7 separate regions of the Homo sapiens genome follow, and all the other regions are reported to be linked to region 2. The links are microRNA targets in miRTarBase. Many come from high-throughput screens and were not tested one by one. Region 2 holds a microRNA gene; each other region holds the end of a gene's coding sequence.

Region 1 (4,069 bases), not on the chromosome of region 2:
ACAAGAAGGCGGCGGTGGAAGGGGTGGTTGGGGTGGTGGTGGTGGAGGTGGTGGTAGAGGAGGTGGTGGGGGTGGGGGTGGGAGAGGTGGCTGGGGGGGTGGAGGAGGAGGTTGGGGAGGTGGTGGGGGAGGGGGAGGAGGGTGGGGGGGAGGAGGAGGAGGTGGTAGAGGAGGTTTCCAAGGCAGGGGAGATTATGGTGGAAGAGGGGGTTATGGTGGAAGAGGGGGCTATGGTGGAAGAGGCTATGGAGATCCATATGGAGGAGGTGGTGGTGGTGGTGGTGGTGGTGGTGGAGGAGGTGGATATAGAAGATACTAAAAACTATAAAAATTAGATAGCAGTGCTTGCTTCTTTATAGATACATTAGAAATAGTGTTCCAAATAACATACTTGAATATCATCTTTGAAGTAAACACCATGTTAGACTCCCTGGTGATACCACTCTTGAATTGGTTAATATGTAAGAACATTGTTTTTTATTACCAGTTGATCTCTCAAATGAAGTGATGACTTTTTCCATATTCTGTGTACCCTTGAGCATGTTGTGTCTTTTTAAAAAACAAAAAAAAGAACAAAAATTATTTTTTAAAATGTAAATATTTATTACCATCAGACTTGGAAAATGGAAAGTATTTTATTGTCATGATTGAATTTAGATTGTTACCTGTATTTTGTTCAGGTTTGAGACATATAAAAGACCCCACCTGTAATAGAAAGGAATATAGACCCTTGCCTCACCTGTATTGCTGTGGATGTGTTTTGTGGGTTTTTCATTCGATTTTACAAAATAGGGAAAGGCACTTCCAGTTGTATTTAGTAGGCAGTTGTTGTGAATCATTTTTTTCTCTTATAGGAGGAGATTCCTCTCTAGCCATGTTTCTGTTAAAGTTTCATTAATTGAAGCCCAAGTTTACTTTTTACTGTACATACTTATTTTCTAATTGGATTTGAAATCAGCATGATTTTGTTTGACAAAGCAAAGTTTAAGATTGAGGTCAGAAATACTTTAATGGAGCAAAGACACATACCAACTTTACATGACGGTGTGAGAAATAGTCCTATAAACTGGTCTCTTCATCATTTATGCTCTCACTTTAGATATCCAAATATTAAAAGGCAGGCTGACCTGTATCACACAGAATTAAGGCAGTAATTTTCTGCTTCAGTAGATCAAGGGTAGGGCTAAGGCATCCTGTGGTAATTCTGATTCACAGCTAGATTTGGGAAACACAAAGTTAGGGAATGGCTATATGTGATTTGCTAGTTGGAGCAGTCAAAGTCTTAGCTATCAAGAGTTGTGAATTTGAATCATGGCACTAGGTCAGGGGTGCTATGGATTGAAATGACCTTAGTTCTCAAGGAGTGATTTGTCCTCATTTGTCAAATGAGGAATGAGACACTTACCATCATCTCAGGTTGTTTCTTAAAGACCTAAATACAAATACAATTTGTTAAAAACTTACAGAGGGCCTATTTTGAATGCTTTAAGATGTAGGCCAAGTAATGTATTTTTCTCTTAGTGTAGAAAGTTAAGAGAAAAAGAGCTGGTACCATAAATTTTTTCAATCTTAGTGTAAAATCTGTATCTCATTGTAGGCTTCTGGTCAATACCTATACATAACAACTTAATGTGATCTAACCAACTCAACTGATAGAAAGCTGAATTGTTCCCAGTGGACAAGTGGTATTTGATGTTTAGCAGGTTTTTTTGTTGTTATTTTTTTGGTAAACTCTGTGGTAAAATCTAAAATAATGTTAAAACCCTAAAAGTAACTATTGAATATTCTGTAATCTTAGACATGTATTTTTCAAGCTAACCCTTTGAAGAAATGTGTTCAAGGTAGGAAAATATAAAATTTTTTGGTTATTTGTAAATTTATTTTTTGTGTGTTTATATTTAATGAAAAGATGTAATTTCATTTGTGATAGCTGAAAAAAAGGCTTTCCATAATTAAGAAAATACCTTTATCAGTAGCTATGAACTCTGAAAAATAATTTTTAAAAACTTTTAAGAAAAAAACTACTTGAGTAAAATATTTCAAGAGTTGTTTAAAAATCTTCTTTAAAACCTTTACATTTCTGCCTCACTTCTTTTTTGGTAGCATTAGTTGCTGATGAAGGAGATTTACAACTACTTTCAACTTTTTTACCACTAAAGGTTTATGGTAAATATGGCAGAAACAATAGTTTATCAGTTTCATTAGATTTTCCATAAGATTTCTTTGTACCTTTATAGGAGTGCTGCTTGGGTTATTCACTACAATCACTTATTTCCTATCAAAGTTTAGCACTTGCTCCTGGAATCGTGTTGGAGCTGAAACCACTCCTATGTACACATTCCTATAAACCTTAATTGAATGAAAAGCTGAATCAGGTAGACTCTTAATATTTTACTCTTTCCTGTAAGGTGGGATTTTCCTGATAATCTTTGTTCAGTAAAAATTTCTTTTGTAGAACAGTTTGCTGAGCAGTATCTGGAATAGCAGGAAGGAAATTTGGGGCCTTAATGGGAAAGGCCATAGTGTGAAAATGTTTTATAAATTGAGTGCAATACGACATGGAGTATGATGAATGGCACTCCACTGCTTCCTAAAATCCAACACTTTTTTTGATACCTCCTTTTCATTCTTTTTTGCCTGGTTCTCAATTTCATTTTTTAATTACCTCATTGTCCTTCCCCTTTTTTCTTCTCTTTTTGTCCAGCCTGGTACCTAATAGCAAATATAGACATGATCTTACTGGGAGTTTCTGCCTAAAGTAGTCATCTTTCCTCTCGACCGTATAAAGAGCATGTATTCTGTCTATAACATAATCACCACACTATTACTCATAAGCACACATCAAAAGGGAAACAAGGGTTTTCTTTGAACTTACTTTTGTTTTGCAGATCAGGGAAACCTTGCCTCATTAAACAGAAAAAGGAAAACATTTTAAATAAAAAACATCTTATTACCTGTATCTGTGACAAGAGGAGGCATGACAACCTAAAAAAAATTTGTGACCAGAAAAATGTCCTGAGCAGTGATACTATCTATACCTTGGAAGGAGCACAGGTTAGAGAAATGTGGGGATGAAAATTGGGGAAGGTGAGCAGGCAGTTTAATCTTGCCTTCAGGATCAGGCTGTCAGTGTGACTTTATTACTTTGTATGAAGTATTATGAATTGCCCAAATGATAAATACACCCCCATCTAAATGTTCCAGAATGCATTCCACAGAGGAATTTGAGTGACTGAAATTTTTCCTCTTTCTTCATTGGTGTGGTTAAACAAAAATTAGCTGGGGATTAAGGGAAAATTGTGGCTATGTCTGATCATTCTAAATAATCATGACCACAAATAAATTGCCCTGAGTAGGTCTGTAACCTGGATTGAGCTGTCGTTACCAATTTTATCCATAGCTTCAAAGGATTTCTTCTTTACATGCTAGTTTGCTTAGATGAAACTGTGGAATTAAAAGCCACAGAGAAGGGACAACCTCAAGTCTGTCTCCTTTAATGTTAAGTATTTATAGACTTAATATTTGGGGACCACTGTAAGTTATGAATAAGATGGAAAGAGATTGAATATTTCTGTAGTGTTACTTCTTCGTGTTGTAAAAAGATGTAGAAAATTTTAAACTGAATAGCTGCTTTGCCTTTCCTTCCAGGAAAACTCAATTTGATTAATAGAATAGGGCAGTGGTCTTAGCTGTGGAATATAGGAAAAATTCAGGTAAAGTGTTTACGGGGTCACGAAGCAGAAGAAACACAAGACATTTGTGTTGTAGGGATCCTAATGTCTTTTATCATATAAATATTACACAAAGAAAACTTACATTAGGTATCAAAAAACTTTACAATCTGTACATTTGTTTTTTTCTTGCATTTCTATATTATACATTTTGAGACAGAAATTCACAACGGTCAGTAAAAAGGTAAGTCAGCAAAGAAAATGAGAAGTGACCCTGCTGTTAATACAACAAGATTTGTCCTTGTTTTGGCAGATAAATACCTGGCCAAACTAAAGTCGTGTGAGATGCAGAAATTTACACTAGGCTTGATAAGCCAAAGCCTTTTTTTTTTTTTTCC
Region 2 (4,069 bases):
GTGCACCCCGACACCGGCATCTCGTCCAAGGCCATGGGCATCATGAACTCCTTCGTCAATGACATCTTCGAGCGCATCGCCAGCGAGGCCTCCCGCCTGGCGCACTACAAACAAGCGCTCCACCATCACGTCCCGCGAAGTGCAGACGGCCGTGCGCCTGCTGCTGCCCGGCGAGCTGGCCAAGCACGCCGTGTCCGAGGGCACTAAGGCTGTCACCAAGTACACCAGCTCCAAGTGAGGTGCGTCCCGGCGCCCCGAACCCAAAGGCTCTTTTCAGAGCCACCTCCAAGCTCCAAAAGGAGCGTGCCACCTGGTCTGGTTGTGACCTGTGATTCAATTGGAGTAATGAGGGAAAGTAGACTGAGCCGTGGGGGCGCAAGTCTTAGAGACAAAATTAGGCTTCTTGTTTGTAACGGCATATTTCCCTTAGAAAGGCTGCGTTCGTCTTGTGTTGGCCACAGGCAAAGTCAGAGAGGGGGCAGTACAGGCGATTGCGCCATGGATCCCATCCAAAGATCTGTGTGTGGCTTACGCCCTGCGCGCGAGGAGCGTGGGTCACCTCCGGGAAGATCTTGTGCCACGTCCCCGCCCCCAGTGCCTCCTGGCGGCTGAGACTGGAGGACGTGCTCACTGAGGTCCGGGGTTGGAGGTGAGGGGGTTATCGCGCCGTCTGGGCGGAGGCGCTTGGGTCCGTTCTTCTCCCGCCCCTTTCCTCCCTCCTTAGCCACAACTAGACACTGTGAGCTTCTAGCCAAAACCATTTCAGCAGCGTTGCGCCTAAGCAGCTCTTTATGCCACGCCTTCCTGCTTGAAACATCAAAACAGCAGGCTCACAGATCTCCTTATCACTCAGCTAAAATTTCCCCAATTAAGGGATTCTCGTATTTTACCCCCAAAATGTGTGTGTGTGTGTGTGTACGCATATTACACAGTGAAAGATTATTTTGAATAATGCAAATATAGTGCTTTTTAAAAAAAACTCCAGCAAATCATAGGAAAAATAAGTATGATCTCTGGATGACACATTAAAAACTAAGGCATGCAGGCCTGACTGGGGCCCAGGCTGTCCTCCCCCTAAAAATACCCCATACCGGTGACACCCCAACCACGAATACCTGAGAGCTACCCACCCTCTAAGCAAAAACGTTGCCTGGAATTAGAATTCGGTTTCCAGGCTCAGTTCCCACTGGTAGAAGATGCACTCTACCCAGGCTCAGTTCCCACTGCACACTCCCAACACAATGACAGCCACGCATTTATCAACATTTAACCTCTCTGGCCTCATAAAGTAAATCCATTTTCTTGGGTTAGTTTCTTCTTAAAGGGAGTTTTCTTTCCTCCAAATTCTTTTTGTAAATAGGCTTTATTTTTTAGAGCACTTTTTCAGAGCAATATGCTTTTTTATTAGTAGTACGTAATAGTTGTACATATTTGGGGGGTACAAATATTTTGATATACGCATAGGCTTAACAATCAAACCAGGGCAACTGGGACATCCGTCATCATATTCACACCCTCTTTAGGTCGAGATCATTCCAATTCCTCTCCTCCAGCAATACAACTAATTATTGTTAACTACAGTCACCCTACTTTTCTAACCAATACTAGATGTTACCATTTCTTCTAAGCATATTTTTGTACCCATTAATCAACTTCATCTCCTCCTTTCCCCACCACTCTTCCCAGCTTCTGGTAACCAGCAATCAACTTTCTACCTCCATGAGATGCATGTTCTTAGCTCCCACGTATGAGTGAGATCATGCAGTATTTGTCTTTCTGTGCCTGATTTGTTTTACTTAACATAATGTCCTCCAGTTCCATCCATGTTGCTGATGACGGGATTTCATTTTTTTTAATGGCCAAATAGTATTCGAATGTGTAAATGTACCACATATTCTTTATCCATATATCTACTGATGGGCACTAAGGTTGACTTTCTATCTTGGCTATTATAAATAGTGCTGCAATGAACATGAGACCGCAGACATCTCTTTGATATACTGATTTCCTTTCTTTTGGATATATACCCAGCAATGGGGTTGCTGGATCATATGGTAAGTCTGTTTTTAGTTTTTTAAAGAATGCCCATATTTGTCTCTATAGTGGCTGTACTGATTTACATTCTTACCAGCAGTGTACAAGCATCCCCTTTCCCTGCGTTCTCACCAACATTTGTTATTTTTTGTTTTTTAATCAAAGTTGGTTTAATTGGAGATGATTCCTTCCAAATTATTTTATTTACTGCATAATAATTAGCAAATCTGACTTGAAATTTCCATCTGAGATGGGTGAGGGGCAATCTCTTAAATACATGTCAGATTGTATGCCAGTCTGGAGGGATTTTGTAGGCATACAATCTGACATGTATTTAAGTGATTGTCACTCACCCATCTCAGATAGGTGAGATGAAGCTTAGTTTAAAAATTTGGCTTAGTTTAAGAATCTTGGCATGTCTCTCCAACCCAGAAAATGCTTCCATTTTGTTGAGTGAGTCCTAATTCCCTTAGTCTCTGTGGATTCTCACATATTTGATGTGCACTGCCTTCATTTATCATTAACATTTGTCTTTCTCTGTTGTAACACTATAATTAGAGAAATGGGTTCTGGACACGATTGCTCTGAATTTTCTCCATTATAAAATCTTAGTAGCAAGGATCCTGTTTTACCTTCTTTGCCTCTCCCTTAACAGATCCCTGTCCTAGGAGAGACGGACAAATCCCATTCATTCTGGGCCTGGGGGTGCTAATGTAGCAGGAAAAGACAGCCTGTTTCTACTTCAAGTTTGTGCCAGGGGAATCAGAAGGACTGAGACATGAATTGACTGACGTTTGACATTATCCATCACAAAATGCCTTCTTAGAGAATTACACTTGGAAAATGTCATGAAATGTTCATCTTGTGCCTTGATTTGATCTCTGGCACTAACCAGTGTTGTTGCCTTGTGCTAACACAATCATTCACTCTCTCTACTGGAGACTGGTTTCACTTTATTAAACCTATGTTTTAAGTTCATTAAGGTGGAGAACTATATGGGTCTGTGAGAGTAGTTTCACAGCTGCAAATGTTTAAGGTATTGACTTCCAATCCATGCTGGTAGGAGGCCGAGGGCTTGGATGTTCCAGTCATTGGGCACCTGTTTCATAGTGGAGAGGACTGGATTCAACAGCTTTTCATACAAATCCTATATTTCTTGACAGTACTAAGGGTGTTGACAAGTCCCACTTACTTTTGATGATGGATCACTGTTTAATATTTGGATTATAACTAGGGATGCAAAGAATTGAATAAAGTGCCTATGACAAAATTGTCATTCCTGTGTATTTTTTGTAAATTTTTTTTGGAGCATATATCAAAACAAAACAGAATGGAAATGACCCCGTGCACTGCTAGCATTGTAACCATATGGAAATGATCCCATGCTGTGCTAACACTGTAACAATATGAACACTGCATGTGTGCAGTCATTGAGGTGGAAAGGAGAGGAGAGAAGAGAGTGGGTGCACCATCCAGCTCATTAAGAGTCAGTTTCACTAAAAGTTTATCTGTTTGATAACATCAAATTATTTATGTTTTGAACAATTGTGTACTGTCGAGATGATTTTTCTTAACAGTGAGAGACTACCCAGAGGTATGCTTAAATTTCAATGTAGACTTTTTTGCAGAGAACAATAGACAAAACACTATTAAACATACAATAGATATATTATGGTAGGGTGAAATTGTAAGGCAAATGGAGAATGGAAATAGGCATTCAGGAGGAAAAAAATCATCTGAAACATCGCATTGACAAAGAAAAATTTGGTCATGTATTTTATGAATTGATTATACTATCATATTGATATTCCAAAAGGCACCTTGAGACTGATGTGAGAATTTTGATTTTTAAAAAGTTCCACGTTGGTATTTGTATCTTTGCAACTATTTTAATTGAAAATAAAAATATTTTAGATAGCTTTAAAACATGCGAGGTTCTCAAAGATTCTTGTAGAGGAATCACGCAGGAAAAAAAAGGTGGGGAATAGGGGACAAAGCCGTTTTGGTCGAGGATGTTCACGGTGACCTTTCTTTC
Region 3 (4,066 bases), not on the chromosome of region 2:
AAACCATTCAATGTGTGTGCTCCTGTCAAGCTAGCAGCGATCTTGGGAGCTCTGTGTTTTTGTCTTTTGCAGTTCCTTCCTCAGAGATCACCTATGGGATGGTCGTGGCAGACCTGTTCCACTCCTTGTTGGCAGTCAGCGCAGAACCTTGTGTATTAAAGATTCAGAGCCTTTTTGTGTTAGATGAAAACAGCTATCCATTACAACAAGATTTCTCCCTCCTGGATTTTTATCCTGACATTGTAAAGCATGGAGCCAATGCCCGTCTCTGAGGCCAGAGGAAGAAATTGCAGGCATTTCAAGGAAGAAGTACTGAAATGATTTGTCTTTTGAAATAAATGAATGACAGGGCTTTTGCTTTGGATTTTTTATGAAATATATTTTACAAAGAGAATTGCACTAGATATATAAATTAAAACTTTTTTCTAAGAAAATCCTGTGAGGTTTAAAAAGATTGTTTTTGTCTTTTGGTTTCTTACTTTCTCCTGGAGAAATGATCTACCAGTCAAGGCAATATGTAGCAGATCCCTGGGAATTAAAGGTTTGCCCATTTGTTCACTGTATTTAGTCCCTGCTACATTCCAGGCATTGTACTAAGTATGGGGAACCACAGAGAAGACATTCCCTCAGAAACTGCTGCAGTGCTTTCGCTTATCCCTACCTAAAAAACCGTCAATGTGAAATCATTTCCTTGATTATAACTATAATGATAATGGATTAGTTTATATAAACCTATGTTTAGACAAGTTCAAGACAAGCGTGTCTTTCTATAAAAAGTATTGAAAATGAAGGAAATGAGATCATGTTTCAATTTATTAAAGCAGGGAAGAGCGTTCTGTGCTTAGTTCGTGTCTAGGATTTGAGTGCCTTACTGAATGCATTTACCAGCAAACATGTAGCAATCTGTTCTCTCATTGTGATTGTGGAAGAAGCTCATGTAAAATGATAGTCATTAATGAGGAAGTATGGCGTGGTACTTATTCTGTAAGTTCAGAGTATGCTGAGTGTTAATAGATTATCATATTGCCTGAAAATAAATTCATGATGACATGAACAAGCTTCTTTTACTCTGTGTATGTTTTTAAAAATTCCTTTGGTTCAGAGGTGGTGGTTGTTTTTTAACTTGGCTTCCCTAAGAATGAACCACAAGAGTTTTGTGATTCTTTCAAAAATAATATGCCAAAATGACTTTGTGGGAGCACACACACACAACTGCATGTTTCTGTGGAGAAGGATCCATAGCTTTCAACAAATCCTCAGAGGGTTCTGTGACCAAGAAAGGTAAGAACAAGGCTTTAACTGATGAGTTTCTTTGTGGGGGAGATAAGGGAATTAGAGCAAATGATTGCCAAAGTTTTGTCTAGCAACTAATAAGGTGGGTACAGAAAGAATTGACTCCATTTTGTATCTAGAGAGACTGGAATTCAAACAAAATCATTGGCTCCCTTCAATGATTCGTTGAATGGGTGATGAAACTTGAGCCTGTAGTTGACACCTTCTAATCTGTGCTCTCTCAACTATAACCACACTAGGCGGATATTTGGAATTCTGATATAAAATCTGCCCAGTCAATATAGGCCAACCAAGAGAGCTGTTCGCTTAAGTGTGCCCTTCCCCACTTTGTCCTCAAGTGGAGACCTAATCCCTACATCAACCAGAACATAATCCCCAGGAACAGATGGCTCTTCACATCCTATTGGGAAGAAATCTTTAAACCATTTCAGGTGAGTCAACAGATCACACCAACATCTCTTCACAGTTGTTGGTATGTATTTCATTCATTAACACATATTTCCAGGAGCCCTTATTTAGGTTGGGAACTGTTTCCTCCAATCCTGAGGAATCTGAGCTATCTACAGAAGTTATGAGCTATTTAAGTGGGATCAGGATCAGCCCATTGCTCCTGCTATGGTCTGAATGTGTCCTCCCAAAATTCTTACGTTGAAACCTCATCTCTGATGGCATTCAGAAGTGGGGCATCTGGGAGGTGATTAGGTCATGAGGGCTTTGCCCTTGTGAATGGGATCAGTGCCCTTACGGAAGTGGCCCGAGGGAGCTTCTTTGTCCCCTTCTGCCACAGGATACAGCCAGAAGGTGTCATCTTTGAAGCAGAGAGCAAGCCCTCACTAGATTCTCAATTTTCTGGCACCTTGATCATCCCAGCCTTCAAACTGTAAAAAATAAGTTTCTGTTACTTATAAATTGCCCAGTCTGTTATTTTGTTATAGCACCCAGAACGGACTAAGACACCTTCTGTGTGTATTCTTTACCTGAGTTGACAAGTAAGTGTCTTTATTCTGTTATGTTTTCATAAAACTCAGTGGGGTAGCCAGAGTGTCATCCAGCAGTCCCATATCTGGCAGTCTTATGGTGGGCATTTCAGGGAGACCTCATTCTTCATCTTCTGATAGTTCAGCTTGCAGGGACAGCTCTCCTATTTTTAGAGAACCATTTTTATTTGTTAGTCACTTAGTTTCCCCAAAGGTATCCTTTTTCTAAAAGCGTTAGAGGCATTCACCTTTCTCCCCACTAGTAAGATCTGTGCTGTTTCATTTTACATCTTTTTTTTTTGGTTGGGGGAAAGGGGGCTGATCATCAAATGAGTTGACAACATTGGGTGCATGATCCACCCTGCAGACGTTCGCTGAATGTCTACCATGTGCTAGGTACTGGGAATGCAAAGACACAAATGTCTGCCTTCTGTAAGTTCACAGGCAAGCTGGTGAAGAAATATTTAAACAAAATTATATCAGCGCCAGGATTAAATCTGTGTGGAATACAGAGCCAAGGCAAAAGAGGTAACAGTAGGATGGGTTTGTTAGTCGTGACTCTTGGTTGCAAGTGATAAAAACCCAACTCAGAGTAGCTTGAGCAAAAAAGGGGGACTTGATTGACTCACATAAATGAGGGTAGTACCAGCTTAAGGCACAGTTGAATCCATTGGCCTAAATTACCTGGTTACCCCAACTCCCTAATTTATCTTTCTTTCTTTTTTCTTTCTCTCTCCCTCTCTCTCTCTCTCTCTGTCTCTCTCATCAGAAGAGGTCTTTTACGCTGTTATTGCAAAAGCATAGATGTTTCTACAGAGTTTTGATAGGATAACATTTTCACAGTGATTATAAATTTACATCATCCCTAGAATTCTAAACTACTGGGATCTGAGGCCGTAAGGTGTTTAAGAGTATTCTGACATTACCTTAGATTCAGCAAAACTTGAATAGTTGATCATGCCTTTCTTAGAAGAAAATATCTGTAATTTCTCAGAACAATATAGAATGAGACAGAAAAACTAACCATCCCTATGTGTCTTATTTTAAGTGATATATTTGTATCCTGATGGGTTTCTAGGTGTTGGAACACAGGTCATGAATCATAGAACAATTAGAATAAAGTGTTCGTCTTTATCAGTAGCTTAATTCTGGCCCTTCATTTAATGTCAACAGGGTAGAAATGTGTGAGAGGGGATGAGGTTTGCCAATTAATTGTCATTATGTCTTTGGAGGTCTTGAACCTGATTTGTTATTATGAAGTGAATTCTACCCACTTAAGGCATACATTTGCTAAAGGTGACCTCTCTGCTTCCACGTTGTTAAGAAATCGTGATTTTTTTCAAAACCATCATCAGCTTTACAGTTTTTGAGGAAAGATCTAGAAGCCTGTTAAAATGGAGTTACCAGGCAGGGTTCAGCCCAGGAAACCGAAGCCACTCTGGGAATTCTAAACAGAGAGAGATTAATGTGGAATTCAGGTGTTTGCAAAGGTATTGGAAGGCTGGAGGAGCAGGCATCAGTCTGAGCTCCAGGAGGCTGCCACGTGAACGGTGGATTCATGAAAACATCACCATTGGCTGCCATCTTAGACTGAGGATGCAGCTGCTGCCATCCTGGCAACTGACTCTCAAGCACATGGAAGCTGGGAGTTAGTTGCTGCTGCCCAAAACTCAGTCCCCACAGCTACACTTGCCAGGAACAGTAGCTTCAGGAAGATAGCCTGGATTTCACTCATCTTCCATATTGCACATGTGTGTGTTTCATTGATGGAACATGATTCACACTGAGAGCTTTAG
Region 4 (4,069 bases), not on the chromosome of region 2:
GGCATTTCTGGATCTAGATTCCTCTTATGTACAGAATAGCTGATGCCAGAGGGGTGGGACAGTGTTTGTGTGTGTGTATATATATATAAATATATGTATGTATATTTCTTTTTTTACTTTTTTCTTTTTTTTTTTTGAGATGGAGTCTCACTCTGTCACCCAGGCTGGAGTGCAGTGGTGCAGTCTTGACTCACTGCAACCTCCACCTCCCAGGTTCAAGCAATTCTCATGCCTCAGCCTCCTAAGTAGCTGGGATTATAGGCATGCACCACCATACCTGGCTAATTTTTGTATTTTTAGTAGAGACTGGGTTTTGCCATGTTGGCCAGGCTGATCTCGAACTCCGGACCTCAGGTGATCTGCCTGCCTTGGCCTCCCAAAGTGCTGGAATTACAGGCGTGAGCCACCGCGCTCAGCCAGGAGTCTGTATATTTAACAAGCACCATGAATTTTTTTTTAACACTCCTCATTCCTGTAAGGAACAAAGTGGAATTTTAAAAAAGGATCTAATGATTTATTTAAATGATAGCTTTAAAAGGTTATTTCTAAATGTACCAAGACTGTAGTGGATAAATACTGTTATAAAAATAATTTTCTATTTTAACATTTCTTCTCATACTTCTCACACTTCTAATTTTCAGGTGTATATTTGGGTATTAAATGAAGAACAAGAATACAAAAGAGCTTTTGATTTGGGAGCAACTGGGGTGATGACAGACTATCCAACAAAGCTTAGGGATTTTTTACATAACTTTTCAGCATAGAAAAAGAGGTACTTAGAAGTATTGAAGGAAAAAATGAAGACCTAAGAAAAAAATATTTCATGATCATTTCCCTAAGCCATTTCCAGAATGGTAAAAGGTTTAATCAGTTTTTATTACCTCATTTTTAAGCCTGTATGAGAATGTAGAAACTATATATTATATGTATATTTATTTTAAATAATATTGTATATTTTATGTTTGTAAATTGTTTAGAAAGATAATTGGTTATGAGATGTAAGTTTTAATTTCTTAATGTGCATTTTTGTTTCTAGATCTTATACAGAAATCTTGATTAATAACATACACAGAAATGTACATACTACATCATCTACAGAAATCTTGATCAATAACCTAGAAACTAGGTTATCTAGGTTATTGATCAAGATTTCTGTAGATGATGCAGTGTTCTATCATAAGTAATTCTGGAATCAAAGACTATTGGATACATTTGGCATTGGGCTGAGTGTGGTGGCTCATGCCTGTAATCCCAGCACTTTGGGAGGCTGAGACAGGCGGATCATCTGAAGTCAGGAGTTAAAGACCAGCCTGGCCAACATGGCAAAACCCCATCTCTACCAAAAATACAAAAATTAACCATGCGTGGTGGTACACGTCTGTCATCCCAGCAGCTCTTAAGGCTGAGGCACAAGAATTGCTTGAACCCGGGAGGCAGAGGCTGTAGTGAGCCAAGATAGCACCACTGCACTCCAGCCTGGGAGACAGAGTGAGACTCCGTCTCAAAAAAAAAAAAAAAAAAAAAAAATGGGAGGCCGAGGCGGGCGGATCACGAGGTCAGGAGATCGAGACCATCCTGGCTAACATGGTGAAACCCCGTCTCTACTAAAAATACAAAAAATTAGCTGGGCGTGGTGGTGGGCACCTTAGTCCCAGCTACTCGGGAGGCTGAGTCAGGAGAATGGCGTGAACCCGGGAGGCGGAGCTTGCAGTGAGCCGAGATCGCGCCACTGCACTCCAGCCTGGGCTACAGAGCAAGACTCCGTCTCAAAAAAAGAAAAAAAGAAAAAAAATTGGCAATAGTCTTCACTGGAATACAATCAATTAGTAAAAGATTTTTTTTTTTTTTTTGACATGTAGTCTTGCTCTGTCGCCGAGGCCGGAGTGCAGTGGTGCGATCTTGGCTCACTGCAACCTCTGCCTCCCAGGTTCCAGCAATTCTCCTGCCTCTGCCTCCCGAGTACCTGGGATTACAGGTGCCTGCTACCATGCCCAGCTAATTTTTGTATTTTTAGTAGAGACAGGGTTTTGCCACGTTGGCCAGACTGGTCTCGAACTCCTGACCTCAGGTGATCCACCCACCTCGGCCTCTCAAAGTGCTGGGATTACAGGTTTGAACCACTGCACCCGGCCAGTAAAAGAAATTTTGAAGGCCATTGCAGCTATTTGGTAGTGTCTTGTTATTTCTAGGTGTACCTTAGTTAAAGAGGAAAAATAAAACGGAAAAAAGCTTGGAAATCAGTGATGTGTAGTTATTTGGCAAGTTATACATAATCAGCAGCAGCCAGGCTCAAGAAAATAAAAGTTGATTAGTTGATCAGAAATAAAATCTGTAGAGTGAATTAGATTTCTGAGTTGTTGTTGTTAATGGAACATTCTATTTGAGACCTTTTTCAGGTGTGTAGCAATTCTACCATGTCCATTTTTTTAAGCATTAAAAAGGAACTTACCAGTTGTAAATTAAGACAAGATCCAAATAGTCATATTTTTGTGTTTCCTCTAAAAAAATGTAAGATTTCCATTTTTGGCACTGACTAACTGAGCCTACATCTAGATTTTAAATACCATCTTGAATCCTAATAATTAAACTGATGAAAGTGCATATCATTGTTCCTAACATTTATGAACCCCCATAAAGATGTTCCTGATCTTTAAAACTCATTAATCTGAGTATTAAGTAGAAACAGAATTTTCCAAAGCATTAGACATCACTTTCTCAGTTTATCTGAGGTGACTTCGTGTACATCTGTTTCTAATATATTTGACTAATTTTCATGATCTCAGATTGTGAGGTAAATGTAATCTGGAATAATAAGTGTCTTTTACCTAGATTACATCTCTCATTTGGAGTTTGGCAATGAAACTGCTATGAAGAATGACTGTACTCTCCTATCTGTCCCTGGATGACATAAATATCATTTGCTTTGTTGTTTAAACTGAAATAAAGTTTTCCAAGAACAAAGTAAGCATTCTTCATTCTTTTTCAGTTTTAATTCCAAATATACTTTATAGATTTTTTTGCAGAATTTAATGAGGTGATGCTTTAATCATATGAATAATAAATGCACCTGAGATTTCTCTCTAGTAAAGAAAAGAAAATATGGAAACACTTTTATGGTAAGAAAGTTACTTCTTGGCATTTGAACAAATAACTTGGGAGGGTAATCCACTGAATCAGTCATTTTCAATTTCACTTATTGTAACTTATGGTTATAGTTGCTAGGGATCATTTTGATCATCTTTGATAGAATTCTTTTTGTTATTTCTCCTTTCTAAATTTTGCTTTGTTATGATTCAGAACAGATCATATTAAAGGGCCAGCTTATATTTTATGTAAACCAGTAGAAGAAAAAGTACCCAACAAGGTAAAGATGTTTAGAAAATAATGTTTCAAAAGTTTGGTGATTTTATAGTCAAGGTGACTTTAATTTTCTTAATAAAAACATAGTATTTTCTAACAAGGAAGTTGGTCATCATTCAGTTAACATCTGAATTCTGCTTTTTGATAGGGGCATCAAGTTTTTTGTTTGTTTGTTTGTTTGTTTTTTGAGACAGGGTCTTGCTCTGCCACCCAGGCTGGAGTGCAGTGGCTCAGTCTCCACTCACTGTAGCCCCAACCTCCCTGGCTCCAGTGATACTCCTACCTCAGCCTCCTGAGTAGCTGCCAGTACAGGAGTACACCACCACACCCTGCTAATTTTTGTATTTTTTTGTAGAGACAGGGTTGCTCCATGTTGCCCATGGCTCAAGCAATCTGCCCGACTTGGCCTCCCAAAGTGCTGGGATTACAGGCACGAGCCACTGCGCCCGGCCTCAGAATTTCTTAAAGCTCTCATTTCAGTTCTAGAAATTGAGGAGTGGGGAGGGACTACAGGGAGTCATCTCATAGCCACACTGTGAAGAAAGGATGGCTGTGATGGGTTGAGAAAACAGAACATAAATAATAAATCATAGTATGCTCCAGTATGGGAAACCATTAATATATAACACAGCCTGAATGATTTTGCCTAGAGTTATGCAAAATGGTGACCCCAGAAAGAATCCATTGGAAAAAAAAAAATCAAAAGAGA
Region 5 (4,056 bases), not on the chromosome of region 2:
AAAACAATTGCTAATAAAACGGTTGAAAGTAAAAAATATATACTAGAATATAAAAGATGAAAAAAACAGGAAAGATACAATAGAGAATTCAGTTCTGGAATCTAATAGAAGCTCCAAAAATAGAGAACAGAGAAAACTTGGGAAAAAAATTATCAAATACAAAAAACACTCCTAGGGACCAAGAAAAAAAAAAAAAACAATTTTCAAAGCACCCTGAGTATCACACACAAGTCGCATTCATCATAAAAGTGAAGACAACCAATATCTTTTGGGATCTTTTAAGAAAATTAACATCAAACCTGGGAAGGTAATATGAAAAATGCATGATCTGTCTCCTTCAAAACAAAAAAACACTACAAACAGGGTAAACAAATTGCTCAAAAATTGTGTGATCCAAATTCAAAGCAAGCTGGTATGTGGAATGGCTTTGGGCAGTTTTCATTTGACCCTGACACTTCCCATTCTCCCTGCAGACACAAAAGTCATAAAATTAGGAAGATAGTAAAGGTGAGGCAATCAAGACTGTGTGAATTGGCCCATCCAGTGAACAATATTTATATAAACACATGCTTTTGATTTTCAATTCTGGAATCTGTGTATATAAGGGAGACTTTATGGTTATAGAAAATGCAAATGTTAACTTGGGAAATGTAAATGTGCAGTTTACAGATGTTATGACATACAAATAGAGGAAAGGAAAAGGTGCCTTTAAAATCATCTCACAGGTATACTTCTACGGCGAGTCAGAGATGTGAGTTAAATCTTCATATATCAAAGTCAACAGACGTTCTGGTTGGTGACATAAAAATACAGGTTGAGCATCCCTAATCCAAAAATTCAAAATCCCAAATGCTCCTAAACCTGAAACCTTGAGCACCAATGTGATGCCTCAGATTGTCCACATGTGACTAAGATAGTGACACCTTAGTTTTCAGACAGCTCAAGGTACACAAACTTTGTTTCATGCACAAAATTACTTAAAATATCAAAACTTATCTTCAAGTTGTATATGAGGTATAATGAAACAAATGAATTTCATGTTTAGGCTTGGGTCCCATCTCCAAGATCTCTCATTATATATTATGCAAATATTCCAAAATCCAAAAAAAAATCTGATATCTGAAACATTTCTGGTCCCGAGCATTTCAGATAAGGGATACTCAACCTGTATATGATGGCAGTGAACAGAAATTGTTAATAATAGCTGATTGTTGGATGTGGAATGGCAATTTGGAAGGGGAGGGGCAGAAAAATATTGCTTTCTATTATAAATGCTTCTATGGCATTTTCTTTTCTAATTTATGCATGTTACTTTGATAATTTTTAAAGAGATGATTCAAACCTATACCTAGAAATGAGGAGAGTAATTAAACATAGGGACATTTACAGTTCATCTGTAATGGTGGTAGATGTATGATACATTTCCTTTCCTTTTTTATATTTGATTCAGTAATGCTACTATGGTAATCTGACAAATCAAGCAAAAGCTTAAAAGGAATCAGTTCAGAGGGAGCAATCTGTTAAAAAAAAAAAAAGCAATGAAAAAAATGAGACAAGACTGGCCTATACTCTTCCTAAACGAAACTAGAAAATTAAGACATACAGATATTACAAATAACAATCCAAACACCTTCATTCATTTAGCCTTTCCCAGAAGTGAGATAACAGAAGAAAAGTGAAATATGTCCCATATTTTTATTAATTGAACTTCCCTTTTTGAGTTTTTCTTGTTGTCAACATTTTTTCTTTTTATTATTATACTCGAAGTTCTAGAGTACATGTGCACAACATGCAGGTTTGTTACATATGTATACATGTGCCATGCTGGTGCCCTTTTTGAGTTTCTATGTTCTTTGTATTCTTCTATTAGTATATCCACATATAAAGAACACTGATAACCACTGTGGTCACAGTAATATTTTTCCTTGTCTACTTTTCACTATTTTTTATGTAGGCAACTAATCTTTCCTTGAGTGATCAAATCTGTTGTTTCTTTTTTGATTTCTGTTCCTTAGCTTAAAGTCAACCCTTCAAAGGGTTAATATTTAACTATTAGCTTTAATATTTTATAATTCACATGAAGTTAATTTTAAATATGGCATGAGGTAGGCATCTACCCAGTTATTCTAACACTATCTGTTGATATGCCTTCCTTTTTCATATGTGATGCCTCATTTATTAACTAAATTCCTATAACAAGATATACATCAGGGACATGTCACTTTGGATTGTTTAGGTGAACAGTAACACTTAATACCAATCATTTTTGTCTCCCCAGTATTTACACCTCACTGGGTCTTAAATATTTGGGTTCGTTCATTTAACAATTAATTAATAACTTCGGGCTGGGTGCGGTGGCTCACGCGTGTAATCCCAGCACTTTGAGAGGTGGAGGCGGGCGGATCACGAGGTCAGGAGTTCGAGACCAGGCTGGCCAACATAGTGAAACCCGTCTCTACTAAAAATTAGCTGGGCATTGTGGCGCGTGTCTGTAATCCCAGCTACTCGGGAGAGGCTGAGGCAGGAGAACTGCTTGAACCCGGGAGGCAGAGGTTGCAGTGAGCCAAGATCACGCCATTACACTCCAGCCTTAGCAACAAGAGCAAGACTCCGTCTCAAAAAAAAAAAGAACTTCATTATTCTAGGCATAGTAAGTTCAAGATATATAATGGAAAATGAAGAAAGACAGGGTTCTTTCATCAATCTTAAAATATGAATCAAAAACTTATGGAAAGAGTAAGCAGCATTGTTTTTTGTTGATAAACGGGTTTGAGTTCTAAGATTGATTTTCATTGCCACATCTGTGCAGTAATGTTTATACATTAATATTTAATTTATGTAAGACTTTGTTCACTGCACTGGTTACGCAAGACACAAAAAAACAGTTTCAAAAATATAGGAGTTTGGGCTAGGATATGCAACAAAGAAAAATTTAAAGTGCTGATGGAAAACTTAAGGGAAAAGTGTTTCATCCTTTATTTCAAGGAAAGATTGTATATTATAAAAATAAACATTGTTATGCCATTGAGTACAGAGCTCCCATCACAAACATTTAACCATTTTCATCATACATCTGATGATCTAAAAATCAAAATCACTTTGAAAGGCTTAAGTATTCTACTTTCTCTTAAAGATTATCACATTATAGTGACACACTACTGTTTTAAAGACTCAAGTAAAAATGAGACCCAGTAATTTTTAACCAAAAGTGTATCATATCCTATTTGCTTGTTTTATAAGATCAATAAACACTATAGTAAGACTTGGCATTTAAACATTAAACATGTCTAAGCCCCCTAAAGAATATACCAGAAATAAGAAAGACATTTAGAATGCTTTAATATTCCCAGTTAACACCATTTGTATCAGTAACTGCAATGTTGTAAGTTTTAGCATCTCACATAACTAGTCAGTAAGGATTTTTTTTTTAAGTGTAGGAGTGAGAATACAAGGACAGGAGCTATGAGAATGTTAAGTTTTATACTTCTGTTAAAAACTCAAAAATCAAAACTATTTTCTTCTCTGCATCAAAACCACAGACTTGAAGGATGTTTTGGCTTTAATCCCATGACTCATCATCTACTGGATTGGGAGCTTGTGAAGAAGAAAACCCAGCTGTGTTCAAAGTGCTCTTGCCCTGGTAATTATTTAAAAAAAAAAAAAAAGAAACAAACAAACATTTAATTTTATGACAGCTTTAAAGTTACATCACTCAGACTGAGAGCAAGGACTCAAAGTATCTACCATGTCTTCCCCAAATAATCAAAGAACTTTATTCTCACTAAATCTGATTCACCTGAAAAAAGGCTCCTGTCAAATGAGGAAATCTAAATTGCACAAAATGTTTCAAGAAAAATATTTTTTAAGTCAATAGTTTTGACAAGTGGGGAAAACTTAATGCACTACACTCAATGAATCAGCATAAATATTTAATTAACATGCTCATTGTTTCTGAATAAAGGCGGTGTTCAGCCTATAAAAACCTGACATACCAGAAAAGACTTGTAGCCTCGTGGCTGGGCGCAGTGGCTCACGCCTGTAATCTCAGCACTTTGG
Region 6 (4,069 bases), not on the chromosome of region 2:
TAATCACAGCTACTGGGAAAGCTGAAGTGGGAGGGTCACCTGAGCCAGGACATTGAGGCTGCAGTGAGCTGTGATTGTACCACTGCACTCCAGCTTGGGCCACAGAGTGAGACCCTGTCTCAAAAAAAAGCTGCTTAGTTGAATGGGAAGAGCTACTTGCATATAGGTGGCAGCAAGTTGTTGATGGAAGTTGGATCTCTGCAGAAGCAGCAGAGGCAGAGAAGCTGCTGTCATGTCAACACTAACAGTCATTCTTGTTTTCTTTTGCCAGGCGGCCTTCTGATCTGTTTACCACGTGAGCAAGCAGCTCGGTTCTGTGCAGAGATAAAGTCCCCCAAATATGGTGAAGGCCACCAAGCATGGATTATTGGGATTGTAGAGAAGGGCAACCGCACAGCCAGAATCATAGACAAACCCCGGATCATCGAGGTCGCACCACAAGTGGCCACTCAAAATGTGAATCCCACACCCGGGGCCACCTCTTAATCTAGACAGAAATAGCTGTTTGGTTTTGTTTTTAAATAGATCTATTTCCCTTATCACTTCAATTAAAGACTATAAACAACAAAAATCTCATTGTGTCTACACATCGGGGTGACCTTAGGTCGGTTTGTAAGTGGATACAATTAATAAAATAAAATCCATTGCCTTTTTTTCCTGTTACATTAACTGAAGATGCACCTAATCTTGAGGCAGCTTCTGAGTTGAGAATTATATTGTTATCCAATACTGTTGATTCATTTTGAATCTTTAGACACTTATCTCTTGCCGCATAGGCTTTTTAAAGGTGCTTTCACATAGCACAGGCATTACCCGTAGTCGTGTCAAATAGCAGTTGGTGTCTTCATTTTATGTATATTTATCATATAAGTCTGATTTTTTTTTTTAAGCGTCTTGAATGGTTTTCTGGAGAGACAGCATTGGTAAGTGGCACATGACGGTATCCCAGTCATAAGAGGGTTGCATGATTCCTTTGAGTGTTTGATTTGAAAAGCCTAGTCTTGTCTCTCAAGAGCATCTCGGACCCAGAACATTCTCCAGTAGTGCATTCAGTTCAACACAGCAAGTGCTTCATTGCATGGAAAACACTTTGAAGACAAAAAAGAAATCTTATTTCTTTTTTTGTAGCCTTCCTGATATTTACAGTAATACCATTAACTGTTTTATCGATAGCAAAAAAGGATACTTTTTGCAATGTTATTAGATGTTCTATAGTGCTACAAGGAATTGCCTTCCGAATGGAGGTTCATGTATAATACTCATTTACAATTCAATATATAATTACACAAATAATTTTTAAATATAATCAATAGTAAAGACTGTTCTGTGGATGGTAGTGTTTAATACATTTTCTATTTTGTACAGTGATTTCAGGCCTTTTGTTTTCTTAAAATCAGCAGCTGTTTGGCCTAATTCTTAGCATTATTTTGTCCTTTGCGCCAGTACTTTTTTGTGCACGCTTTTTGTGATCTGTGTTAAAAACCTGCATTGCCAACATTGCAGCTCGAACTTAAACTTGTTATTCAAATAAATATTTAATTTTTTAAATTGCTCTTGTATAATCAGATGCCCCTTTTAGTATTATTTTAGAAGCGTTGGGAGGGTTTTGCCTAAAGTACAATTTATCGGGAAAAACTAGATTTTAGTTTTATAAAACTTTTAAGTCTTTCATGGGACCTATATTTTCTTGAATTAAATTTTGTAGTTCTAGAATAAATAGGCAATCTAAAAAGGTGTTCTCTGTGTTATGTAAAGTGGAGGCTTCCTTATATTTTAACCTACTAAGCAATGAGGAGGGATTCCTGTCATTAAGCACAAGGGCGCTGGATCCTCAAGTGCCCATCTTCGTGAGAGAAAAAGCAGCACATCCTGCCCATTTCTGGTGCTTTCTGCTCACAGGCACCAAAGCTGCACATGTAAACTGACTTCTTGCCAAAGGAAATGACCCCTGGGAAGTTCAAGCTCCTGGAAGAGGCTTTAACTCGGACGCGCCCTCCTCCAGGAACCAGTGGGCAGGGCAGCCTTCATGCATGTGTAACTGGACCTCCAGCCATAAGCATGGTGTGCAGTATGGAAGAGCCTGCTACGGAACTGAAAGTGATTGGACATTTTATAGGAATTGATAGAGATGTTGGTCCTCAAAAGCTACAAACCAGTGGTCTGCAAAATAAAGTGTGTTGGAAACCTCTAGTGAGATAAACCTACTGTTGAGCTTTTTTTTTTTTTTTTTTTTAAATAACGATGACTGAACTTCAGTGTAGCCTGTGCCGTGAGAGCTGGTGTTTTCCTCAGTGGCAGGCCTATTGAGAGGAGGGAGCTAAGTGGAGTATGTACTTAAGGAAATAATATTTGTGAAGATTGATATTTATAAAGAGAAAATGTTGGGTACTTAGAGGTCCGTGTAAGTCTTATGATCCCAAGAGGAAGAATTTGTATTTAAAGCAGTGTTGGCTGGGCATGGTGGCTCACACCTGTAATATCAGCACTGTGGGAGGCCGAGGTGGGCAGATGACCAGAGGTCCAGAGTTCAAGACCAGACTTGCCAACATGGTGAAATCCTGTCTTTACTAAAAATACAAAAATTAGCTGGGTTTGGTGGCGCACACCTGTATTCCCAGCTACTGGGTAGGCTGAGGCACAAGAATCGCTTGAAGCCGGGAGATAGAAGTTGCAGTGAGCAACCTGCCATCACACCACTGCACTCCAGCTTGGGCGACAGAGACTCAGTCTCAAGAAACAGACTCAAGTCTCAACAAGCAAACAAAAACCAGTATTGTATAGTGGCCCAGATTCACCTGTGTTAGAATCACCCGGGGTGTTAGAAGGCAACATTCCTGCCCCTGATTTTCCAGATTCACAGAATCAGAATTTCTGGGGTGTGGGACTTTGGGAATATCTTAAATAAGGACCCTATGGGGCTATGGCCAAAAAAGTTTCAGAACCATGGGTGCAGCACACCAACATGGCACATGTATACATATGTAACAAACCTGCACGTTGTGCACATGTACCCTAAAACTTAAAGTATAATTTAAAAAAAAAACTGATCTCAAAAGGAATGTTGCAGAGGAAGGCAGGGAAAGTAAGAGGACCTGGTTTTGCAACTTTTTTTTTTTTTTTTTTTTTGAGGCGGAGTCTCTCTATCAGCCAGGCTGGAGTGCAGTGGTGCGATCTCAGCTCACTGCAACCTCTGTCTCCCAGGTTCCAGTGATTCTCCCGCCTCAGCCTCCCGAGTAGCTGGGATTACAGGCGCATGCCACCAAGCCTGACTGATTTTTGTATTTTTAGTAGAGACAGGGTTTTGCCATGTTGGTCTCGAACTGAGCTCAAACGATCCGCCTGCCTTGGCCTCCCAAAGTGCTGGGATCACAGGTGTGAGCCACCATGCCCAGCCTTTTGCAACATATTTTGCAGGAATTTTTTCCTCGACCATTCTCTTACCGACCATTCCGACCAAATCTTGACCATTCTGTTTACTTCCCACATCTGAGCTACGGCCCAGCAAGGCAGCAGAAAGACCTGTATTTTGAAAGCTCCACGAAGACTCAAATGATTGTCACTGAATATTGGAGTTCTTGGCAAAATCTATGTAGAACATTTTAAAAGTCAGTGGACAGGCCAGACATGGTGGCTCACGTCTATAATCCTAGCACTTTGGGAAGCTGAGACAGGAGGATCACTTGAGCACAGGAGTTCGAGACCAGCCTAAGCAACATAGTGAGACCTCGTCTCTACAAAAAATAAAATTTAAAAAGTGAGTGGAGAGTAAGTAGTCGATTTGACTTTCTGGTAGCACTTTAAAACTTCACACTGAAGTGTATTTATCTTGGTATACTGATTTGTTTTCTGTAAATCATATAGTATAGTTGCATCCAAAAATACAGTCTGTTAGAATGCATAGAATTAGTGAATACAACCTGAGGCAGCTGGATCATGGTGGAGTCAGTCATTCAGGCACTAGGAATAATCTGAAGGAATATTGAAGCTGCTTATTTGCACAGGCTGTGTTGAGGTATTTATTGTGTTTCAGTCCAAGAAAAATTGAAATATTGTATAAGCAATATGTACT
Region 7 (4,063 bases), not on the chromosome of region 2:
GAATTGGGGCCAGCATATAAAAGGTGAACAAGTAGAAAATATGAGGGTAGATCATATTTGTAAAGGTAAATAACATTTTATGAAGATTTTGTTTCAATCATTTATGTTTATGGATAATCTGTTCTGATGTAAAATGTTTTTTGACCTGTAGGTCACAGTCACAATTTTTGAGAAGCACTTGTTTAAAGGTTCAGTGTTACACAAATTATCAGATTACTTTTAGTAGTAATTAACAGAAAATTCAGATCCAAATGGGAATAATCACTAAAAAAGATTATTATTCCAACGTAACTAGGATTCCAGTTTGGGAGCTCTTGGTGCTGTAGTTTTAGTTGTTTTTTTTTTTTTTTTTTTTTTTTTATACTTTAAGTTTTAGGGTACATGTGCACATTGTGCAGGTTAGTTACATGTGTATACATGTGCCGTGCTGGTGCGCTGCACCCACTAACTCGTCATCTAGCATTAGGTATATCTCCCAATGCTATCCCTCCCCTCTCCCCCCACCCCACAACAGTCCCCAGAGTGTGATATTCCCCTTCCTGTGTCCATGTGATCTCATTGTTCAATTCCCACCTATGAGTGAGAATATGCGGTGTTTGGTTTTTTGTTCTTGCGATAGTTTACTGAGAGTTTTAGTTGTTCTAATCTGCCACTCTCAGTGTTATCTTCTGCCTAAAGCCAGTTCCCCAGTGGCACTTAGAATAACATGCCAATTTATTCATCTAGGCAGAATAGAGCTTAGATTCTCACTGCCTTAACTTAGTTTAGGCCTGTCCACTACAACCCATTCAGGAACTAATCTACTGTAGGAAACTGTAATGCAATGTGGCAAATTCAGTGTATTATCGAAACATAGAGCACCTCAGCTGACGAAGTCATGAATTTAGCTGTGGGGATGGGCGGGGAGCCACCTAGGTGATACCAAAAGTTTGTGTGTAAGTTACATAGGTAAAAGAGAGAAGGCTGTCTGCACGGCAGGGACTGCTTTAACAAAAGGTTGTGGACAGGGGAGCTGTGCACAGGGAAACATCCAAAATAGGAACTTTTATGCTTCTAGAGCATAGCATTTAGAGGCAAAGGAAGTAGTTGGAGTGATGAGTAGATGCCTGAACAAGGAGGGGAGTCATGATAAGGATCCCATAGGAAATAAGCAACTGGAGATCATCACCAGGGAATTAAGATGATCAGATTCCCGTCAGTACAGCCAAAGTGTAGAGGGAGGTAAGTTAGGAGGTTGTTGAAGTAACCCAGGATAGAGGTATCTTGGATTTCTTACTAGGGAGCAAGTTGACTGCAGATTTGAGAAACATTACGGAAATAAACATGACTTGTTAATTTCAGTGTCAATGAGGGTAAGGAAATAATCTCTGACTTTTCTAGTCATCTCCCCAAGATATCAGGCTTACAGTGTATTAACTGTAAAGCCTAAACTTGTTACCTTTTGAGAAAGGAGTGATCATTACTTTGTCTACCTTACTGTAAAGAACTGGCGCCCAAGACGGTGGGAACCTTTGAGAGTGGTGCTCTTGGGTTTGGAACGCATTAAAGAGGTGCCTAGATGGACTTGGGGGGAGCAGTCCACTAGTTGAAGAAGTTATTTATAAGCCAGATTAGTAAAATTCTTTTTTTTTGAGACAGAGTCTCGCTCTGTTGCCCAGGCTGGAGTGCAGTGGCACAATCTCAGCTCACTGCAAGCTCCGCCTCCCAGGTTCACGCCATTCTCCTGCCTCAGCCTCCTGAGTAGCTGGGACTATAGGTGCCCGCAACCACGCCCAGCTAACTTTTTGTATTTTTAGTGGAGACGGGGTTTCACCGTGTTAGCCAGGATGGTCTTGATCTCCTGACCTTATGATCTGCCTGCCTTGGCCTCCCAAAGTGTGGGGATTACAGGCGTGAGCCACCGCACCCGGCAGTAAAATTCTTGATGCTGTTACTTTCCTTGTGTTATCCCTGAGCCTTTAGCAAATGTTTTAGGATTCATGTACTTTTATTTGGACCAAAACATTAAAGGGGAAGCAGTGTCCCTTGAGGCCACTGTGGTAGTGGCAGTGGCCTGTTATTGTGAGCTCATTGATGGTACAGGTTGTTTCTTATCTCTAGTCTCTATTAGATGAACAGTGGATATTGTATCCCTTCTGCCTAAATTGATGCTGGGAACTAGCAGATGCTCAAAAAGCATGTAGGGAACTGTTGGAAGTCCCAAAGGGAGATATATTTCTGGGGTCTAAGAGGAAAAGCTACAGGAGCCCAGCCACAATCCATCTATTTAAAATAAAGATGTGGTTTTAAGGAAAGTGGTTTCTCTAGAAGTTAGGTATGACTCCTAGATACCTAGCTAGGGTGGATATTCATGCTAAGACAGAAGAGGGGTATATTTTTTAGCAGAAGCAGAGTTGTAGCTTTATTTCATAAATGTTTTGAGTGTCTACTATATTTCATTTAAAATATAAGAGCTTTCTGGCTATAGTGTGAAGAACAAACCATAGTAGAGAAAAAGAGATAAAGAGCTCTGTTGGGAGTAGATGAGTATCAGACTAAGGCAGCTACAGCTAAATTAGCACCAGAATAGTTCGTTCTGTCACTGAAGCCATGTCTGCTACACCAGTGATCCCTTTACCCTTACTCTTACTTATTATCTCAGACAGTGGATGGGTTCAGTGGGCCAAATACACTCAGAAGATAGAGCCTAAGATAAAATCTCTTCTACCCACTTTACTGGGGATATGGCAATTATCAGGCACTGCTATCAAGTGTTTGGACCAAGACTGATGGCTCCTTTCTAAGTCCTTCCATAACTACTACCCTACTAAAGCCTCTGAACCCAAGGGAACGGCAGCCTGGCTGTGCCAAGAAAGGGGCTCCCAGCTTCTCACATTCTGAAGCCGGATTTCCCTTTTCTGGGTTCCCAGAGAGGCCAGATTTGACAACAATAAAAACTTCCAGGAAATTCCTAGGAGGTTTAATTTCCTAATCCTTCTCTCGCATAGACCCTCTTTCTTACCCCTTCCCCTCACCAAGAGGAAGGAGCTTATCCTGGAGCCCAACATCCTCTGCTGAATGTCTCCACCCCTTTGGCCAAACTGGTGGAACATCTGAGTTCTTGGGTCCTCTCCTCCCAGGCCCATTCAGGGGGTTGAAGGGAACACATTAAGGTAATGTGTGATCCTGCCTCAAAACAGAGGACTGATTGCAGTATCCCCTGAAGGTTCGCAGGGTACTAGATTGTTTAAGGAAGTTTCACTTGCAGATTGTCACTCCCCTACCCCTGTCAGGAAGTAATCTTTCTCTAAGAAATCCCAAGCACTCATCTCTAGGAGACCAGATGTCAAAACACAACCACCTCTGGCAACATTTGGAATTATAGGATGCATTCCCATGTAAACTGGCATTAAGAAAAACAAAATTGCACTAACCAAAAATAACCCAAATTTAAGGACCAGAAGCATAAGCCATGAATTTACTATCTCAGGTAGACTGAGCATTTGGATAATTCTCATTCTCCAGAAATCCCACAGGAAGGAAAAAATAAATAAATTTATATATATTCATATAAAGACTTTTATCTATTGTGCAAAGAGAGGGTCATCTGGCTCCCCAGAAGGTTCTCAACCCCATCAAGACTGTCCATTTTACATCTCTAGCTCCAGTTCTTCTCAGAGAGTAAAAGTGCTCCAAAGGCCTGTGATCATGGGTACTGATTAAGGGCTGCAGACTCTTCAGATCCAGTTAAATCCCTGGTGTTTGAGCTGTGTGGGAGCTGTGGTTGCTTGCTTCCTGGCTTTGCCTGAGGTCCTGCCGCAAACCCTGCAGCAGCTGGTTTAGGAGTGTAAGGTGGCTGTCTCTGCGAGGCAGAGGCAGGGGTGGGAGGCAATTCCCTTTATACTCGATCACTGCCATCTTGGCCCGATCCAAACTCCGATTTGGGATCTGCAGCATTCTTGTGTAGCCCCCAGTTTGATCTTTGTACCGAGGGGCCAGTACTTGAAACAGCTTTGGGATCAAATCCTTCTCCTAGAGGGAGAATTATCCAAGAGACAGCAGAGTCAGGCAAAACTGCAGAGGC

What was found. The annotated mature microRNA hsa-miR-4666a-5p reads AUACAUGUCAGAUUGUAUGCC and lies in region 2 at 2,348-2,368, opposite strand. An mRNA with a match to its seed (bases 2 to 7 or 8) in the 3' UTR can be bound and repressed. Matches are read on the target gene's strand: a 7mer-m8 pairs with bases 2 to 8, a 7mer-A1 pairs with bases 2 to 7 and ends in A, and an 8mer does both.
Region 1: miRTarBase lists FAM98B as a target of hsa-miR-4666a-5p. Seed matches in the 3' UTR shown: 7mer-m8 at 1,799-1,805.
Region 3: miRTarBase lists SHLD2 as a target of hsa-miR-4666a-5p. Seed matches in the 3' UTR shown: 7mer-m8 at 892-898 and 7mer-A1 at 935-941.
Region 4: the mRNA of GDPD1 is a reported target of hsa-miR-4666a-5p. Seed matches in the 3' UTR shown: 7mer-m8 at 1,852-1,858.
Region 5: miRTarBase lists DDX4 as a target of hsa-miR-4666a-5p. The part of its 3' UTR that is shown has no 7-base or 8-base seed match.
Region 6: the mRNA of SEPHS1 is a reported target of hsa-miR-4666a-5p. Seed matches in the 3' UTR shown: 8mer at 1,913-1,920.
Region 7: miRTarBase lists MRPL17 as a target of hsa-miR-4666a-5p. The part of its 3' UTR that is shown has no 7-base or 8-base seed match.

Annotation. Positions count from the first base shown.
Region 1 is chr15:38,484,341-38,488,409 of GRCh38, forward strand. FAM98B (family with sequence similarity 98 member B) reads left to right here. Exons shown (of 8, transcript NM_173611.4): 8 at 1-3,370. The coding sequence ends at 319. It overlaps RASGRP1 (RAS guanyl releasing protein 1), which reads right to left. Exons shown (of 17, transcript NM_005739.4): 17 at 3,763-4,069. Among named protein-coding and RNA genes, the nearest start is that of FAM98B, 32 kb to the left of the region's middle.
Region 2 is chr1:228,460,382-228,464,450 of GRCh38, reverse strand. It overlaps MIR4666A (microRNA 4666a), which reads right to left and starts at 2,377; the gene lies at 2,299-2,377. It also overlaps the pseudogene H2BC27P.
Region 3 is chr10:87,190,412-87,194,477 of GRCh38, forward strand. SHLD2 (shieldin complex subunit 2) reads left to right here. Exons shown (of 10, transcript NM_001330112.2): 10 at 73-1,054. The coding sequence ends at 272. It overlaps LOC105378410 (a long non-coding RNA gene), which reads right to left. Exons shown (of 2, transcript XR_001747528.2): 1 at 2,271-4,066. Among named protein-coding and RNA genes, the nearest start is that of NUTM2A, 33 kb to the right of the region's middle.
Region 4 is chr17:59,273,010-59,277,078 of GRCh38, forward strand. GDPD1 (glycerophosphodiester phosphodiesterase domain containing 1) reads left to right here. Exons shown (of 10, transcript NM_182569.4): 10 at 642-2,961. The coding sequence ends at 764. Among named protein-coding and RNA genes, the nearest start is that of GDPD1, 55 kb to the left of the region's middle.
Region 5 is chr5:55,816,044-55,820,099 of GRCh38, reverse strand. DDX4 (DEAD-box helicase 4) reads right to left here. Exons shown (of 22, transcript NM_024415.3): 22 at 2,943-3,637. The coding sequence ends at 3,560. Among named protein-coding and RNA genes, the nearest start is that of IL31RA, 33 kb to the left of the region's middle.
Region 6 is chr10:13,315,559-13,319,627 of GRCh38, reverse strand. It overlaps SEPHS1 (selenophosphate synthetase 1), which reads left to right. Exons shown (of 9, transcript NM_012247.5): 9 at 272-2,200. The coding sequence ends at 486. Among named protein-coding and RNA genes, the nearest start is that of PHYH, 18 kb to the right of the region's middle.
Region 7 is chr11:6,678,392-6,682,454 of GRCh38, forward strand. MRPL17 (mitochondrial ribosomal protein L17) reads right to left here. Exons shown (of 3, transcript NM_022061.4): 3 at 1,994-4,011. The coding sequence ends at 3,727. Among named protein-coding and RNA genes, the nearest start is that of MRPL17, 2.9 kb to the right of the region's middle.